Regions from separate parts of the Homo sapiens genome. Here regions 1 and 3 are each linked to region 2. A link means that fine-mapping ties the variant in region 2 to the plasma level of a protein whose gene starts in the linked region. Region 2 holds a variant in brackets. A gene starts in each other region. All regions are shown on their forward strands. Region 1 holds the start of PDZK1 (PDZ domain containing 1). Region 2 overlaps AHSG (alpha 2-HS glycoprotein). Region 3 holds the start of VWA1 (von Willebrand factor A domain containing 1).

What was found. PIP is the posterior inclusion probability: the model's chance that the variant is causal. The UK Biobank Pharma Proteomics Project read protein levels with antibody pairs (Olink). The fine-mapping took linkage between variants from a reference panel, not from the people measured, so its PIPs are less certain.
Region 1: it holds the start of PDZK1, and the variant in region 2 is fine-mapped to the plasma level of the PDZK1 protein (UK Biobank, PIP 0.99).
Region 3: VWA1 starts here. The variant in region 2 is fine-mapped to the plasma level of the VWA1 protein (UK Biobank, PIP above 0.99).

Annotation. Positions count from the first base shown.
Region 1 is chr1:145,705,072-145,709,182 of GRCh38, forward strand. PDZK1 (PDZ domain containing 1) reads right to left here and starts at 2,297. Exons shown (of 9, transcript NM_001201325.2): 1 at 2,246-2,297. RefSeq lists an enhancer at 1,345-2,544.
Region 2 is chr3:186,618,771-186,622,881 of GRCh38, forward strand. AHSG (alpha 2-HS glycoprotein) reads left to right here. Exons shown (of 7, transcript NM_001622.4): 6 at 1,087-1,170; 7 at 1,816-2,548. The coding sequence ends at 2,160. Among named protein-coding and RNA genes, the nearest start is that of AHSG, 7.8 kb to the left of the region's middle. The variant C/T (reference allele first, on the strand shown) is at 2,005.
Region 3 is chr1:1,433,399-1,437,499 of GRCh38, forward strand. VWA1 (von Willebrand factor A domain containing 1) reads left to right here and starts at 2,292. Exons shown (of 3, transcript NM_022834.5): 1 at 2,292-2,423; 2 at 3,529-4,086. The coding sequence starts at 2,351. LOC107985729 reads left to right here. Exons shown (of 4, transcript XM_017003066.2): 2 at 565-673; 3 at 798-1,004; 4 at 1,138-2,151. The coding sequence ends at 1,752. LINC01770 (long intergenic non-protein coding RNA 1770) reads right to left here and starts at 1,175. Exons shown (of 2, transcript NR_125996.1): 1 at 790-1,175. RefSeq lists silencers at 1,051-1,345, 2,092-2,461, 2,220-2,409 and enhancers at 1,203-1,946, 1,206-1,265.

The sequences.
Region 1 (4,111 bases), not on the chromosome of region 2:
AAAGGTGACAAGTAAAAGAGATGATTTTTTTTTTCTCGAGATGGAGTCTCACTTTGTCACCCAGGCTAGGGTGCAATGGCACAATCTTGGCTCACTGCAACCTCCACCTCCCAGGTTCAAGCAATTCTCCTGCCTCAGCCTCCCAAGTAGCTAATACTACAGACAGGCAGTACCACGCCCGGCTAATTTTTGTATTTTTAGTAGAGATGGGGTTTCACCATGTTGGCCAAGCTGGTCTTGAACTCCTGACCTCAGGTGATCCACCTGCCTCAGCCTCCCAAAGTGCTGGGATTACAGATGTGAGCCACTGCACCCAGCCCAAATGAGATGATTTCTGATGGTACACGCTGTGAATGATAGAGATACTGGTGGCATGGAGGTGGGAGGCTGATTTAGAAAGTCCTTCCTGGGAGGTGACATTTTAATTCATACCCCAATGACAAGGAGCTACCCTTCAAGGCTCCAGGATCTACCTTATACTTGGCCAACTGAAAAAGACATTAATGATGATCTGGTCTCAACTTCTTATTTGTAAGTGAGCAAACAGAGGCTCAATGAGATTAAAAGACTAGGACAAGGTTTCCCAAGTGACTGCAATTTGTTTCTTCTTACTATTCTACAGAGACTTTCGATATACACATTTGAAATCTAGGCATCTTACATCGTGTTTTTAACATATTCATGGTTTTTTGTTTTTTAGACAGGATCTCAGTCTGTCACCCAGGCTGGAGTGCAGTGATGCAATCACGGCTCACTGTAGCCTCGACCCCCTGGGCTCAAGCAACCCTTCCATTTCAGCCTCCCAAGTAGCTGACACCACAGACACATGCCACCATGCAGGATTAATTTATTATTATTTTTTGTAGAGACGGGGGTCTCACTTCATTGCCCAGGCTGGTCTCGAACTCCTGGCCTCAAGTGATCCTCCCGCTTGGGCATCCCAAAGTGCTGGGATTACAGGCATGAGCCACCATGCAGGACCACACATTTGTACTTATAATTTTATTTTCAGTACACTCTTGGGGAAAAGATGACAGACCTTCACTTGATCAATAATGAAATTGAGGCTCCAGTTGGCTAAGTAGTTTGTCTAATGGCCTGTCACTAGCAACTGAATCAAAACTCTGATGATTTGTATTCCAGTCCTATGTTCTTTCCCCTGGGGGAGAAGTAGCTGCCTAGCCAGTGGTCTATGAATATAAGACATCATTACCAGCAACTTCACACCCTATGGTGCAGAGAACATACAAAAGTCAAAGATAAGCACAAGTTACTATCATAACACAGAAATTCAAAGACCCTGAGTAATTTGCTGCAGACTTCAGATGACTGGACAATCATGGCCTGAGGCAGTCCCTGCTACCCCCTCTTGCCTTCTAGATACAAGACTGAAAGCTGCCCTGGTGACACATTGCAGAGATTTTAGTAAATAAAGAAGAATGTGTTTCTCAGAGCCAACGCCCAAATCTTCATAGCTGGACCCAACCCAGACCAGGAGTCTTCATAGCGAGTGAACCCTTAGGTAAGTGTCATACTTAAGTCTCATGAGTCTTCTGCTTAAGAAATAAACTACTAGTGGTTCCCAAACCTACCTGCACTGATCAGAATGATTCTGGGAGAGTTTTCAAATAAAGATCTTTCAATTCACACAAGGCCTGGAGACTTAGAAATGCCAAAGGTGAGAGCCTGGGGAATGTATGTTTTAAAATTCAGCCAGCCTGGAAATCCACTGGTTTTTCTCATGTCTTAGTGCTGCAGTGTGATACAGAGAGGAAAGATGCCTGCTTTTATTATCTAGTGGGCAAGCTAAGTTAGGCTGCATCCTTTAAAGGCTGCTTCCAGAAGAGTCTTCTCTGCTACCCAAGGCCCCTGTATCAGTAGGAAGGTCCCGGGCATATCCGCCTGGTTACCTGTGAAGTCAGTTGTCTCACTCCCTTTGGCTGCACATCAAACCCCCACACAACCCCGGGAAGGCTTTTTCTGAGGTCGGTTTACCAATTTCTTTGTGAAGCAGACCCTAGCCTACAAAGGTGAGGGGCATCTCCAGCAGAAAGAATCTCAGAGCGTGGATCATCTCTCACCCCCAACCACCGCCAAAGGGGCCTGGCTGCCTCCCCATGGGACTCTTCTCTGCCCTAGACAGCCAGCTACTGGCTTGGAAAAAGAAAAAGGGAAAAGGAAAAGAAAGAAGGTAGTTCAGGCCCCGGTGGCCAGCACCCTCAAGGAGGACACGAGCAGTTCTTACCTGGAGATGGAAGAGGAGCTGCTCTGTTCGTTCACTCAGGAATTCTGTCTCTGCAGGTGAGCATTAAGCTTGCAACTCACTGGACTTTGAACAAAGATTGATTTAAAAGCTAATGTATTTAACAGGGACATGTGGTCTGAATTCAAGTGACCTCTGTCCTGCTTCCTGCCAGCTGGCTGGGCCCTGAGCTGGAAAATCTGACAAACCTCAGCAAACCAAAAGCTCTGGCCCACCTGCCTGGCCCTGCGGGGAGGCCGCTGCTCGCCAGCCACTCCCAGAGAACAAGGAGGGGAGAGGGGGTGAAGGACAGCCAGGGAGGAGGTGCCTCCGCTTTCCTTGGTACTCTCCCTTTGGCAGATACCTTGGTTACACCCAACCAACCCCCAATCCTGTTAGGATCCTCCAGTCCCCCATCCTGGGGTCAGGGCCGAGGCTCATACAGGAGTATCCTCAATCACTGAGGCCTCCCCAAGGAGCAGTAGCCTATAAAACTCCCACCCACGAGGCCAGTAAGCCCCAGGAAATGGGGCCAAGCACTCAGGGCACCCATCCTGCTTCCCTCTGCCCTGGATTCTCACTTGTGTGCTCCCTAGGAGTTTAGCAAGCAAAGCCCTAGAGCAAGCAAAGCCCTTGTTCTTGTGTCCCAGGCTTCCTTCTTCTTATCCACTCTCTCCCCTCTCTTTTTTTCTTCTCTTTCTCACCTGATGGTGCTCTTTCTATTCTCCAGCCTAGCGATAATTGTCTTCCCCTTCACACACTCAGAGCCTCTCGGGCAAGCCCAGCAGGGTAGGTGGAAGGCATTTTTACAAACCCCTCCATCCTGCTGCCTTGCTGCCCGAGCAGTAGGCTGGTGCCCGTGTGCTCAGCCGCTAGCCCTAGCCATGATCAGCAGCTGATCCCTATCAGCAGCACCCACACAGACAATTCTATCACTGGCCTTCTCACTGACCTGAATCCTCAGCCCACAATGCAAATCAGGGCAAGAGATTGCTCCCGGCACTGAGGCAAAGCAAACCACAGGCCGAGGACTGGGTGACCTCACCCCTCTTCCACCCACACTGGAAGAGCCATTTGTCTTTGCTGGGCCTTGGCTTGGCCCCCAACAAAGACATGACCTGAGCCCATGGATAAACGGTTTAAAATGACATTGAGCAGCTTCCTCATACCAGCTTATCTTCCTCCACCTCGGGGCTAAGCCCTCCTGGCCTCCTCTATATCTTTCAAAGCAGAAGGTAGAATGGGAAAATCTGGATTTAGGATCAGAACACCTGAGTTCATCGCAATCCCAGCAATTTGTGAGGCCAAAGCGGGCAGATTGCCTGAGCTCAAGAGTTCGAAACCAGCCTGGGCCACATGGCAAAACCTTGTCTCTACAAAAGGTACAAAAAGCCAGGCATGGTGGTGCATGCCTGTAGTCCCAGCTACTCTGGAGGCTGAGGTGGGAGGATCACTTGATTGAGAGGCAGAGGTTGCAGTGAGCCGTGATCATGCCACTGCACTCCAGCCTCAATGACAGAGCGAGACCCTGTCTCCAAAAAAAAAACAACAAAACAAAAAAGAAAGAAAGAACACCTGAGTTCAATTCTGACGCCACCATTTCCCATTTCCCAGGTGTTTGATCCAGAGTAATTCATTTTTAACTCTCTGGGTCTCACCTTCATCATGTATAAATAGTTGTTATTGTATGGTTTTTAGAAATTTTTAAAAATTGCTGTTGTTGTTGTTGTTGTTTGAGATGGAGTCTCACTCTGTTACAGCCCAGGCTGAAATGCAGTGGTGCAATCTCAGCTCACTGCAACATCCGCTTCCTGAGTTCAAGTGATTCTCCTGCCTCAGCCTCCCGAGTGGCTGGGATTACAAGTGCCC
Region 2 (4,111 bases):
GGCAAGCCTTCTTTTAGGGTGTCACCTCATCCCTTTAAGAGCTGTCATCAAATCATCTCACCCACTGGAAGCACATGAAGTTAGGAGAAAGAGAGAGGCTATTTGCTAATGAAGCCAAGTCACGCCCACCCACTGGGAATGTGAAGTGCACATTTTCTAGACATATAACTCTGATACAAAAGCTTTCAAGTCCTTGAGCCAATAATGTACACTTCTAGGATTTTAGTCTAAAGAAGTCATCAGTGGCCAGGCATGATGGCTCATGCCTGTAATTCCAGCACTTTGGGAGGCCAAGACGGGTGGATCGGGAGGTCAGGAGATCGAGACCATCCTGGCTAACATGGTGAAACCCCGTCTCTACTAAAAATACAAAAAAATTAGCCAGGCTTGGTGGTGAGCGCCTGTAGTCCCAGCTACTCGGGAGGCTGAGGCAGGAGAATGGTGTGAACCCAGGAGGCAGATGTTGCAGTAAACTAAGATCGTGCCACTGCACTCCAGCCTGGGCAACAGAACGAGACTCTGTCTCAAGAAAAAAAGAAAAAGAAAAAGAATTCATCAGTGACATTTGACAGAATATATCTATAAAAATGATTTATTATGGATATAAAGAGACCAAAAAAGAGAGATCTGTATGTCCAACAGGAAGGTGTCATTGAATAATCCATGCACATCAGTAAATAGAAAATTGTGCAGACACTAAAAATTGTGTTTTCAAGGAATAATGAATGATATGAGAAAATGCTATTATGGCAAGTGAAAACACACAGGATACAACATCGTATAGTCACAATGATCTCAATTTTTAAATCATATTTAATAGTATTTTAAAATAAGAAAGAAATGCATCAATGTTAACAGTCCTTCTTTCTAGGCCACCACCAGAAAGGGATTATGGGTAATCTCTCTCACTCTCAAAGTATTTCTGTATTTCCATGTTATATATAGAATCATATACCTCCCACAAGCAGAAACTATAACTTTAAGAAAAATGGTTTTTCAAACTAATTTAAGGTTGGCGCGTCAATGAAATTGGGGGGGATCCATTTTTGAAATTAGTTAAAATAAATCCTCTTTCTCTGTGGGCAGCAATATGGCTTTTGTAAGGCAACACTCAGTGAGAAGCTTGGTGGGGCAGAGGTTGCAGTGACCTGCATGGTGTTCCAAACACAGGTAACAGCTCCGTGAATATTCTTGCCTACACCTTCAGAATACAATGACCCCTTCACATTTATGCAGTGCAGTAGTGATGACAGGACATTTGCTCTCCTGTGCTTCTGAATCTCACAGTATGAAATAACACTGGGGTATGCGGAATCATCAACAAATGGAAGGATATTTTAGCTATGCCTTTCCCTCCCACGAACTAGTGACTACAGGGAAGAACCATCTTACTGTGTAGTTGACAAAGCCACCTTTTTATTTGTGGGAGGTGGGAGTGGTTTTCTGAGTTGCAGAGACCAGGTGGCCAGATCTACCTGTTAGCTCCCAGTGGCTGCAGCTTCAGATGACAAAGAGGGTGGCACTGCTGGGCAAGGGTGAGCCATAGGTGGGGTGCTTTTACTCATTGGACATATGCGTGTAAGTCCACCATCACAAAGACAATCCTAGTGAGGCCGGGGCCAACATAGGCCAGTCACCCCTCCTTGTAACCTTGATGACAATCCCTTGTACTTGGGTAGGTCCTTTCTTGCTAGACTCTTTGCAAATAAAAATGTATAATGTGAGGAAATTGGGTGCCAGTGCCACCTGGGCCTGTGGGTTGTCTTGCCTGGGAGGAGGAAGCAAACTAACTGAAGGAAATGGTCCTTTTTCCAGCCCGTGAGCTCACAGCCCCAACCAGAAGGTGCCAATGAAGCAGTCCCCACACCCGTGGTGGACCCAGATGCACCTCCGTCCCCTCCACTTGGCGCACCTGGACTCCCTCCAGCTGGCTCACCCCCAGACTCCCATGTGTTACTGGCAGCTCCTCCAGGACACCAGTTGCACCGGGCGCACTACGACCTG[C/T]GCCACACCTTCATGGGTGTGGTCTCATTGGGGTCACCCTCAGGAGAAGTGTCGCACCCCCGGAAAACACGCACAGTGGTGCAGCCTAGTGTTGGTGCTGCTGCTGGGCCAGTGGTTCCTCCATGTCCGGGGAGGATCAGACACTTCAAGGTCTAGGCTAGACATGGCAGAGATGAGGAGGTTTGGCACAGAAAACATAGCCACCATTTTGTCCAAGCCTGGGCATGGGTGGGGGGCCTTGTCTGCTGGCCACGCAAGTGTCACATGCGATCTACATTAATATCAAGTCTTGACTCCCTACTTCCCGTCATTCCTCACAGGACAGAAGCAGAGTGGGTGGTGGTTATGTTTGACAGAAGGCATTAGGTTGACAACTTGTCATGATTTTGACGGTAAGCCACCATGATTGTGTTCTCTGCCTCTGGTTGACCTTACAAAAACCATTGGAACTGTGACTTTGAAAGGTGCTCTTGCTAAGCTTATATGTGCCTGTTAATGAAAGTGCCTGAAAGACCTTCCTTAATAAAGAAGGTTCTAAGCTGAATGTGGTCATGCTTATTGCGACTTCATCCCAGCTCCCCTCACATGCATAGCCTTTTACCCCAACAAACACAGTGTCCCTAATCAAAATCAAAGTGAAAAGAGAACCAAAAGAGAACAAAAACCTGCTGTATTGCCAGATACAGGAAAAAGTGAGACTAGGATCTTTCCACAACCCATAAGATGTGACCATTTCTTTTTTTTTTTTTTTCTGAGACGGAGTCTTACTCTGTCACCCAGGCTGGAGCGCAGTGGCATGATCTTGGCTCACTGCAAGCTCCACCTCCCAAATTCAAATGATTCCCCTGCCTCAGCCCCCTGAGTAGCTGGGACTACAGGTGCGTGCCACCACACCCAGCTAATTTTTTTTATTTTAGTGGAGACAGGGTTTCACCATGTTGGCCAGGATGGTCTTGATCTCCTCAACTCATGATCCACCCACCTCGGCCTCCCAAAGTGCTGGGATTACAGGCGTGAGCCACCGCACCTGGCCAAGATATGACCATTTCTTTATGAGAAAATAATTCTTCTCATTTTATAAGAGAGAGAAAATATTGCTAAAGGTGGGCCAAGCTCCTGAACTTTGTACAGAATAAACTATCCATTGATTTTCTCCAGTACCGAGGTAAGGAGGGATTGGTAATTAAAACAAGATCCTCACTTTATATCTGTTGTTAATTATGTTTAAGATATACGTTGAGTGTACTGTATACACTTCATTTTATAACACAAGATTGGTCTTCCTAGCCAATCTATTTTAAGGACCCAAGTTAAAGCTGTGACTTGTAGTATCATTAGATAAAGGATGCCTGGACAGGTGAATCCCGTGGACATTTGTAGACACCGTCCAAGTGCTCAGATAGCATATGTGAATAAACCCTCCCCATTTTAGCATGGTCCCTGGGCAATTTCAATTTTTGTCCATCAGCATTAAGTTTTTCCGATCTACCTCAGTGATGGGCCCTTTCAGATGGAATTTTAGAGGGCAGGACTGACACCCAGTTGAGTGACTTCACTTTAAACCAAGGAGAATGAATCAAGTGTTGACACTCACCTTATCACTTGTGCCTAGAGGTTTTGCCAATATTCCAGTAACCAAAAGGAAAGGCCAGAAAGGTAAGAAAACCACTAGGTGTCACGGAAGCCAGAGAAGAAGCTATGGGCAGCTGTGCTAAATGCTGTAGAAAGAGCAGTAAGGACGACTGACTCTGAGGTCATGGTGACCACTGGCAGATGCAGTTGCTCTAGGGGCATCCTGGTTGTCAAGAGTTTACTGGTGTTGTTGCTGTAGGGAGACTGGAGAGTGGGCTGTAGCTGGGCAAGAGTAGCCACAGGATAGAAAGTCACTAGAGCTTTCTAGAGAAAAGATTAACATGAGTTGGTCTAAGGTGGTGGGCAGTGGACATGATAAAAAGAGGTTATAATTTGGAGGTAGAACTCCCAAGACCTGCTGATGAATTTGATATGGGAGTGAGAAAGACGTGAAGGATGATGATTCCTGGATTTGTGGCTTTGTGAACTGGATAGATGTGTGTGTGTGTGTGGGGGGGGGGCATTTACTGAGGCA
Region 3 (4,101 bases), not on the chromosome of region 2:
GCAGGGCAGGCTGGCTCCGGGAAGTGAGGCACAGGGACTCCCACAGCCCAGGCCCAGACCGTGGGGGCGGGGTGGCCGCAGCCAAACCAGGCTGCTCCCCACCCCATGGGGCCCCAGGCCACCAGGATCAGACAGGGGCTGTGCCTGCAGGAGGCAGAGGGCTCGGGGCCAGCACCCACTGTGATCTGGCCTGACCCGTCCTTGCCTCTGCCTCTTACCCCGGGCCCTTCTCCCTGGAGAGTGGAGGGTTCCGGCTGTTATATTTGTGCTTCCTCCGGTGTCTGCCTCAAGTCCGGCCCGGGCCCTGACACTGCACCTCTGGCTGACCCCATGCTCTCTGGGACCCTCTGTCCACGTCCCTCCTCCGGGGTGGAGACAGCGGGGGGAGGGCAGGACACAAGAATGAGTCCTGAAGACTGAGGGGCACGGGGAGAGCTGATGGGGAGGGTCTCCTAGCTGGAGGGACTCCAGGCAGAGCCGGGAGCAAGGCAGGTGGCTGAGCTCGGCCCAGGCTGGGTGGAGGCCAGGCCTCCTGTGCCTTCTCCCGCTGATGGCGAGCTGAAGGGAGGAGGGCGGCCGCTTCCTTGAGGGCCTGAGTCACAGCCAAGAAGACCCGCTCACTTTTTCCAGAAGTGAGGGAAACTTCCCCGTCAGCCCTGCAAGGCTGGCTGAGGTGTGACTGTGGCCCGCCTGCTGGGCGAGGGTGGGGGACAAGCGGGCCACTGGCTGTGAGCCTCCCCAGGGTGGGGGACCCTCGGCCCAGCTCCCTGCCTGACTACCTGGACGTGCCTCCGCAGGGTCTGCAGCCAGCTTCCGGTCAGACCCCAGGTCCTCCAGCGGCTGCGGCCTTCAGCGTCATCTCCACGGCAGCCCCTGTGTACTGGGGGCTGGGGGGCCTGGCGAGGCCCCTCGAAGTGGTACAGCTTGCACTCTGGGGACCCAAAGTCCCCCCACCGGGCCCAGGCGGAAGCACCAGGCATTTCTGGTCCCAGCCGAGGTCTGAGGTCTGTGGAGCGCAGCCAGCACCTCCACTGCCAAGATCCCCGGCAGGGGGGGTGGGGGGCGCCGGCGGGGACACAGCTCTCCCTTGTTCCTGCCGCCAGCTCCTCAGCCTCAGCCTGCTGCTTCCTTTTTTAGGCAAAGTCGAGTGCTGGCCGTCCGCACGGCCCCGCGGTGTCTCACCTGCCTGAAAGGGAGGAAGGAAGCCTGTGGAGCCCCATCCGTTCTCCCGCGGCGCATCCTCCAGGAGAGGGTGGGGAAGGAGGAGACATCCTGGCAGACACCCCCCCACGTCCCCCACCTCCCAGCTCTGAGCTGAGGAGGCCCTGGAAGAGGGCCATGGCTACTCCGAGGGAGGGCCGGGGTAGGGTTCTCCTGTCCAGGGGACACTGCTGGCCCAGCCCCACCCAAGCAGGGGAAATCTGCCCTGGGAGCCACTGTCCCTCAGGACGCCCCCTGCAACCAGCCACCTCTCGTCTGGGCCTCACCAAGACCCCAAGACTCAAGAGCTCCTGTCTCACCAGTGGGACCCTCCAGTCCTGCTGGGGGTGTGTCCTGGGTCCTGGAGTCTGGGCCCCTCACTGGGTAGGGTATATGGGTAACAGGCCCAGTGTGGTCCCACTGGACAGGGCCTCAACCAACCATCTCCCACTCCCATGCCTCTTCCTCCAAGAAGCCCAGGTGGCGTGGGTGCTTCGAGTCTCTCTCGAATTCCTGTCTTCTGTCCCCTTTCAAGCCACTGTGTCCTTGTAAGTTCCACCCCATGGTCCTTCCCATCCCTGCTGGTCAGTCCCTGGGATACATGTCCTGTTACTCCAGACACCTATCCGCCTCCAGCGCGGAGGCCAAGGCGAAACCACGGTCTGGACGTGTTTTTTTGGTGCCACCGCCAGCCCCTGGGGTTCTCTTGGGCCTGGCTGCTGGGACCCCAGCACCCAGAGTCACGGCAGTGGTGGGCATGGGGAGGGCCTAGCCTGGTACCTCCCTGCTCGGCTCCCGCGGCTGGGGGTCGGAGAGGGGTGGAGAGCGTGGGCCGCACAGCCTCGGCCGGGAGAGGGAGACTGGAGTGTGTGTGTGTGCGTGCCTGCGCGTGCGTGCCTCGGTCGTATCTCGGCTGGTGCTGCGTGTCCCTGCGTGTCGGGGTCCGCTCGTGCGCGCCTCTCCGGGGTCTGTGCGCGTGGCCCTCCGCTCGCGCCGGAGGGCGTGGGCGTGGCCTCGGCGTGGGTGTGGCCGCTCGGGGAGGGGCCTCCCGGGGGCGGGGCCGGCCTGGTCCGCGCGGTGACGCGCCCTGCAGCCCCGAGCGAGCGAGCGAGCGAGCGAGTTGCCGAGCGCGCCCCGTCCCTCGCGCGCGATGCTCCCCTGGACGGCGCTCGGCCTGGCCCTGAGCTTGCGGCTGGCGCTGGCGCGGAGCGGCGCGGAGCGCGGTGAGTGCGGCGGGCGGCCGGGCCGGGGCTGGGGCTTCTGGTGACCGCTCTGCGCCGCTGCCCGCGCAAGGCCGTCGCTGTCCCCTGCTCCGGACGGGCGGGCGGGCTGGGAGGCTGCGGGAGCCGGGCGGGGGCGCGGGCGGAGCGTCCTGCTCACCTGAGGCTGGCGGCCCAGGTGCTCCAGGCGACACCGTCCGTGAGCGCCGGGGCATAGGGGCCGTCCCGGCCCGCATCTCTGCGGGATCGCGGGCCTGGACAGGAAGAGGGAGATGTCTGTCAAGGGGGCACCCCTGCCTCAGTTTCCCTACCCTTGCGAGGGCCCTTAGTGGAGGGATGGTAGGGAAGTTGGAGTCGCCCCACCGCACTGGGGAAAACCGCAAGGCCGGGACTAGAATTGAGGCACGCTGGTGCCCTGGCTTGGTGGGGAGGGGCGGTGTAGGGGGCATCAGCCTCCACCCCGGAGGTGCCCGGAGGAAGGGGGAAGCCTGCGAGGGGCTGTTCCGGCTTTCAGGCTGCTGGGGGTTATATCTTGTTGTGTGAGTCCAGGTGGGCTGGAGGATGGAGGCCAGGGGAGGGGCCACCATCTAGTAAGCGGGGTCTGGGCTCCAGCCAGGCCATCCGGCGTGGTCATTGCTGTGCCTCCGACACCTTCCCCTGCTGCTGTGTGCATGCCCAGGGTGCCTCACCTGCAGGCTGAGCTGCGTGGCTGAACTCCAGCCTCAGGCTGCTCCTCTGAAAGCCATGCCTGGAGGGAACAGCCCCACGGCTCAGGCCTGTCCTGGGGGCCTAGGCCAGGACTCTTGGCTCCACCTGCTTGCAGGGTCTGTGAGGAATGGGAAGGTGTGGGGGCTTGGAGCGGAGAGTCGCCCTCTCACAGATGGGATAACACAAGCCCAGAGAGAGCCCTAGATCCCATGGCCAGTGTGCAGTGAAACCCCCAAAAGTACAGGCCTCTTGCTTAGAGTTCCTCTTTCCCCCAACCTAGGACCTTTGGGAGAAGGCAAGCATCCACTTAAGGAAAGCTGGGGCCCTGGGGGACCCTGCCTTGCTGTGGGGCTGTCTGGGGGGCCCACACCTGAGGCTGAGCATTCCTCCTTTCCCCCAGGTCCACCAGCATCAGCCCCCCGAGGGGACCTGATGTTCCTGCTGGACAGCTCAGCCAGCGTCTCTCACTACGAGTTCTCCCGGGTTCGGGAGTTTGTGGGGCAGCTGGTGGCTCCACTGCCCCTGGGCACCGGGGCCCTGCGTGCCAGTCTGGTGCACGTGGGCAGTCGGCCATACACCGAGTTCCCCTTCGGCCAGCACAGCTCGGGTGAGGCTGCCCAGGATGCGGTGCGTGCTTCTGCCCAGCGCATGGGTGACACCCACACTGGCCTGGCGCTGGTCTATGCCAAGGAACAGCTGTTTGCTGAAGCATCAGGTGCCCGGCCAGGGGTGCCCAAAGTGCTGGTGTGGGTGACAGATGGCGGCTCCAGCGACCCTGTGGGCCCCCCCATGCAGGAGCTCAAGGACCTGGGCGTCACCGTGTTCATTGTCAGCACCGGCCGAGGCAACTTCCTGGAGCTGTCAGCCGCTGCCTCAGCCCCTGCCGAGAAGCACCTGCACTTTGTGGACGTGGATGACCTGCACATCATTGTCCAAGAGCTGAGGGGCTCCATTCTCGGTATGCGGGAGGAGG